Linked DNA regions of Homo sapiens: region 2 is linked to region 1. The links come from fine-mapping of genetic effects on plasma protein levels. Region 1 holds a variant in brackets. A gene starts in the other region. All regions are shown on their forward strands.

Evidence for each region. A credible set is the group of variants that fine-mapping cannot tell apart. PIP is the posterior inclusion probability: the model's chance that the variant is causal. The UK Biobank Pharma Proteomics Project read protein levels with antibody pairs (Olink). The fine-mapping took linkage between variants from a reference panel, not from the people measured, so its PIPs are less certain.
Region 2: it holds the start of ECE1, and the variant in region 1 is the best candidate, but not a certain one, in a credible set for the plasma level of the ECE1 protein (UK Biobank, PIP 0.51).

Annotation. Positions count from the first base shown.
Region 1 is chr3:52,518,764-52,521,767 of GRCh38, forward strand. It overlaps STAB1 (stabilin 1), which reads left to right. Exons shown (of 69, transcript NM_015136.3): 48 at 1-106; 49 at 501-641; 50 at 742-801; 51 at 1,181-1,357; 52 at 1,441-1,527; 53 at 1,637-1,786; 54 at 1,879-1,935; 55 at 2,041-2,242; 56 at 2,598-2,747; 57 at 2,833-2,937. Among named protein-coding and RNA genes, the nearest start is that of NT5DC2, 14 kb to the right of the region's middle. RefSeq lists enhancers at 293-901, 902-1,508 and a silencer at 585-728. The variant G/A (reference allele first, on the strand shown) is at 1,752.
Region 2 is chr1:21,289,177-21,291,676 of GRCh38, forward strand. It overlaps ECE1 (endothelin converting enzyme 1), which reads right to left and starts at 1,287. Exons shown (of 19, transcript NM_001397.3): 1 at 1,188-1,287; 2 at 894-980. The coding sequence starts at 1,238. RefSeq lists an enhancer at 1-292 and silencers at 969-1,138, 1,189-1,368.

The DNA of each region.
Region 1 (3,004 bases):
TCGCTACCACGTGGTTGGCTGTCGGCGGCTGCGGAGCGAGGACCTGCTGGAGCAGGGGTACGCCACGGCCCTCTCAGGGCACCCACTGCGCTTCAGCGAGAGGGAGGTGAGCCCTGGCCCTGGCCTGCCCCGCTCCATCCCGCCCCGCCCCGCCCCTGCGCGCCATTGCCCCAGGCCCCACGGCCCACGCAGTCAAGAACCCCACCTCCCCTAGCCAGGGGGCGCCTCCTGCTGAGTCCAGCCCGGGACTCCGCCCTTGACCTGGGCCTCGCCCACTGCTGTGGGCCTGTCCTGCCCAGCGCCCTTGTGTCCTTCCGAGGACTGAGCCCCGCCCCCTGCCCTGACTCCGCCCCAGACCCCGCCCACCTCGTCCTGGTCCCGAAGAACCGGGACTGCCTGCACCCTGACTTGCCCAACCCAGGTTCAACCTCCACCTCAGGCCCCGATAGCTTCCGAGCACCCCACCTATCTGCTTCATCAGCCCCGTGCCCCGCCCCCAGGGCAGCATATACCTCAATGACTTCGCGCGCGTGGTGAGCAGCGACCATGAGGCCGTGAACGGCATCCTGCACTTCATTGACCGTGTCCTGCTGCCCCCCGAGGCGCTGCACTGGGAGCCTGATGATGCTCCCATCCCGAGGGTATGACAAGCACGGGCCTGGGAGCTGGAAGACAGGCAGGTGGGGGCCTGGGATCCTCCCTTCCCGCCTGGCCTAGCTGTTTATGAGAGCCTTTCCTCAGAGAAATGTCACCGCCGCCGCCCAGGGCTTCGGTTACAAGATCTTCAGCGGCCTCCTGAAGGTACTGCTCCCGTGTGGGCCTGTCATTGTGGACACACATGCACGTGTAAGTGTGTGCAAGTGTGTATGCGTACCTGTGTGTGCATACCCACCTGTGTGCACACTGTCCCGTGTGAGCCTGTGTGAACTCATGTGTGCACAAGCCACATCTGTGTGCATGTGCACCCCAGGTTGAGCACATGGGTGTGCTTATGTGTGCCCACATTCCTGACAGCAGTGTGCACAGTTGAGATGTGTGCACACACATGCCTGCCTGGGATGGTCACAGATGAGTGTGGGTGAGTGTGGAGCCCCTTCCTGCTCTGTGGCACAGCCCCCTGCCTTTGCTAACTAGTCTCTGACTGGGCAGCGACTGCCACATCTTTGCTGCACCCCACCAGGTGGCCGGCCTCCTGCCCCTGCTTCGAGAGGCATCCCATAGGCCCTTCACAATGCTGTGGCCCACAGACGCCGCCTTTCGAGCTCTGCCTCCGGATCGCCAGGCCTGGCTGTACCATGAGGACCACCGTGACAAGCTAGCAGCCATTCTGCGGGGCCACATGATTCGCAATGTCGAGGTGGGTGCAGCCCCCAACCTTGGTCTTCACTGCCTGCAGCTCAGCCTGCCTTTCCACCTCCAACCATGACTCCACTTGCTCAGGCCTTGGCATCTGACCTGCCCAACCTGGGCCCACTTCGAACCATGCATGGGACCCCCATCTCTTTCTCCTGCAGCCGAACGCGGGCCGTGAGTCTGGGGAGAGGGCTTGGATGAAGGGAGTAGGAGGCAGGGGCCCTGGCAGTAGCAGCTGGAGTGCACCTGCGACCCTTGCATACCTCATATTCTCTCCTTGCAGGGTGAGCTCATGGTGGGTGAGGATGATGCTCGCATTGTGCAGCGGCACTTGCCCTTTGAGGGTGGCCTGGCCTATGGCATCGACCAGCTGCTGGAGCCACCTGGCCTTGGTGCTC[G/A]CTGTGACCACTTTGAGACCCGGCCCCTGCGACTGGTGAGGGAGGCCAGAGGCAGACGGGCAGAAGCCCACCCCGCCTGTGGTGTCCATCCACCTGACTTTGCTGTATTGGCCTCCCTCCCTTCCAGAACACCTGCAGCATCTGTGGGCTGGAGCCACCCTGTCCTGAGGGGTCACAGGAGCAGGTACAGGGCTAGGGGCTGAGTGGGGGTGGTGGGGTGGGGGCAGGCAGAGCCCAAGGACCACCAAACTCAGAACCACCCAACTGCGGCCTGACTCCTTTGGCCCAGGGCAGCCCTGAGGCCTGCTGGCGCTTCTACCCGAAGTTCTGGACGTCCCCTCCGCTGCACTCTTTGGGATTACGCAGCGTCTGGGTCCACCCCAGCCTTTGGGGTAGGCCCCAAGGCCTGGGCAGGGGCTGCCACCGCAATTGTGTCACCACCACCTGGAAGCCCAGCTGCTGCCCTGGTCACTATGGCAGTGAGTGCCAAGGTGAGCATTGCAGACACTGTTGACTAGCTCCTCTGTTCCCCAAGAGAGCCAAGGCACAGCTCTGGCCATTGTCCTTGAGAGAGTGTTGGGGCGTCCAGGGCTGGGGAGCTCTGGGTGGTGAGTAGATTTTACTAGCGGGAGTGCTCGGGAGAGGCATGGCGGTAGTGTGGACGGTGCAGAACCTGGGGAGGAGTGCTGGGGGGTCTGGATGTTCTCCAGGACATGGGCCTGGAGGGATCTTAGCAGTGGGCGGACATAGGTCAGGGACAGATGGCAGGGCTAGGCTGGAGGTACGTATATGGGGGTCCTGGTGAGAGCCCCTGGCCCCACCTCACTTCTCCTACCCCATCCCCAGCTTGCCCTGGCGGCCCCAGCAGCCCTTGTAGTGACCGTGGCGTGTGCATGGACGGCATGAGTGGCAGTGGGCAGTGTCTGTGCCGTTCAGGTTTTGCTGGGACAGCCTGTGAACTCTGTGCTCCTGGTGCCTTTGGGCCCCATTGTCAAGGTGGGCCATCCCTGCCTGCCCCACGGCCCGATTCCTTTGGCCCTTGTGGGCCAATCTTTATCTTCCTGCCTGTCCCTCTCCCCAGCCTGCCGCTGCACTGTGCATGGCCGCTGTGATGAGGGCCTTGGGGGCTCTGGCTCCTGCTTCTGTGATGAAGGCTGGACTGGGCCACGCTGTGAGGTGCAACTGGGTGAGTAGCCCCGTGCTCGTGCCCACCCTACACACTTGTGTACATGTGCACACATCAGTAAAGGCAC
Region 2 (2,500 bases), not on the chromosome of region 1:
CTACCTGGCAGAAGTCCTCCGAGAATTGGGGTGCCCCAGCTCCTCTTTCTACACTGGCTTCTCAAGAGCCAGATCACTGGGTCTCCTAGGGTGTCCGCAGCGTTTCCAGCACCTTCCCACGCACCTGGCTGGCTCCAAACCCCTCCAGCACTGAGGTCTTGGCCACAACTGTCCCAGTGCAGCCCCCCAGGGACGGGAGGGCAGAAAGCAGCCTTGCTCAATGTCCTGTTACAAGGCAGGGACGGGGGTGGGGCCCTCCCCAGGAGTGGGCAGATGGGATGCCCACGGGCGGAGACCCTGGGGAGGGGAGGAATTGGACTTCCTTAGTAGGCTGGAAAAGGGGCAGGGAGAGGGGGCAGAGAACAGGTTTCTGGCCCCAGGAAACTCAGGTATTGGGAGGGCAAGAGGAAGAGGGTGGTACTGCCTCCCGGATAAGGTGACCAACTTTCCCAGTTTGCCCCGGACTGGGGGAGTGGGTTCCAGGGATGCAGGGCTTTCCACGCTAAAACAGAAACAGCCGTAGACTCTGCCGGTAAAGGGCCTGGGCAAGTCCCGGGACATGCACAAACTGTGCCTTCTGTGGAAAGGGAACTGGACCAGTTCGGGTCTCGGGGGTGCTTTCAACTCTGCCACCTGGGCTGTGGCCCCAGAAGCAGGTGGCCGGGAGGCTCTAGGGATGGCGGGGGCAGGTGAGGGGAGACTGGTGGGCTCCGGAAGGCTTCTCAGCGCGGAGCTCCAGCTGCGGGGAGGCGCGGCCCCTCCCGGATGCCGGGACGAGGGAGGGGAAGGGAGGGGAAGAGGCGGGGTAGGTAGGGGCGGGGGGCGCGGCAGCGGCAGCGCGCATGCCCGGGCCCGGGGCGCCTGGACCTCGGGAGGGAGCGGAGGGCGCCTACCTGCAGGCCGTTGGGGTATGCGTCGCCCTCGGAGAGCGAGTCCACCAGGTCCTCCTCGTCCAGCGTGGCCCGCTTGTACGTCGACATCTGCAAGGCCAAATGCAGCACGGACTCCCTCAGCGCCTCCATGGCTCTCGCGCCCGAATGGGGAAGCGGCCCCGACCCTGGCGCCGCCGCCGCCGCGCCCCGCCCCGGCCTGGACACCCGAGACCGAGACCGGCCCACGGAGCGGCCCGCGCGGGGAGGGGTCCCGCCCGCCTCCCGCCCCCGCCCTCCAGGCCGCGCCCGCCTCACCCCCAGCGCCGACAGCAGGGCGGACACCGGGGGCGGCCACACGCCCCGCATGCTGTGCCCCAGACGCCTGGTCCCGCTGCCCGGGTGGCCGGGATGGGATGGGCCGGGCCAGGCGTTGCACCACCTTCGCGGGCGGGGCCTGATCGGTTCGCCGGCGCCCGGTTCCCAACCTCCGGCCTCCCGGGGAGACCCCAAGACCCGAGAGGCCCGGGGGAGATGGGGACCCCTCCCTTCCCCGGAGGTCGGGAGTGGGGGCCCCCAAACTGAAGCCCCTAGCAGGCAGGAAAGGCCCTCACAGTGACCCCTCCTTCGAGAAAATCTTAAGTCCCCCTTCAACAACCGGGTCCCCAGTGGCAGATAACAAAAGTATCAGGAAGGTGCCCTCGATGTGGCCCAGAGCAATCAAGACAGGTTCCCCCCGGCATCAGCCCTTAGGTGTGTCTAGGGGGTTAATGCTAGAAAGACCAGACAAAAAAGGTGGGGTAAAAAGGTAGGTGTCCCCTTTCAGTTCCCCTTTCTAGCTCAGAGGCCTTTAAGCCAGAGTTCGTGAATGAGTTTCAGAAAATTTCAGAGAACTCCCTGACACGGGATGAAAGGAGCTGTGTGTGTGCATTTGGATGGCTGCAGGGTGGTCCGGTGGTCACCCCCGTGCTCAAAGGTGTCGCCCTCCCTGCAACACAAGAGAACCATTGCTCCAGGGGGAGTCAGAAGCCAGGAAGGGGACCCTTCTTTCCCATCTTCCCCCTCAAGACTCGGAGCCTCAGCCAGGTGCCCCCCTCCCCAGCCCCTGAGCCCTCTCCTATAACCCTAGGCAGGGAAAGGGGGCTCTCTCGGATATGAGGTGTTCAGTTAGGGACTCAGGCCCAGCACTGTCCCAACCAAGAACCCCAGAGAGGTCTAACCCAGCAGATTTCCAAAGGACTCTCCGCTTCTAGCAAGGCGGGAATCCCTGCATTTATGCGTACTTTTCAGCTTTGCAAAGTGCATTTCTGCTCATTCCAAATTTGATTCTCACAGTCACACATATGTGTGAATAAACAGGTTTAGAGGGGTGAGGGGCCTGACGTCACAGGGACAGTGAGGGCAATGGCTCCAGATGGTCTCCTGGCTTCCACTCCTGCCCTCTGACAGCCCCCTCAGCAGCCAGGATGAGCCTTTAAAATGAAATCTGGCTGAGGCCAGGCACCATGGCTCGCTCGCGCCTGTAATCCCAACACTTTGGGAGGCCAAGTTGGGTAGATCACTTGAGGTCAGGAGTTCAAGACCAGCCTGGCCAACATGATGAAACCCCATCTCTACTAAAAATACAAAAA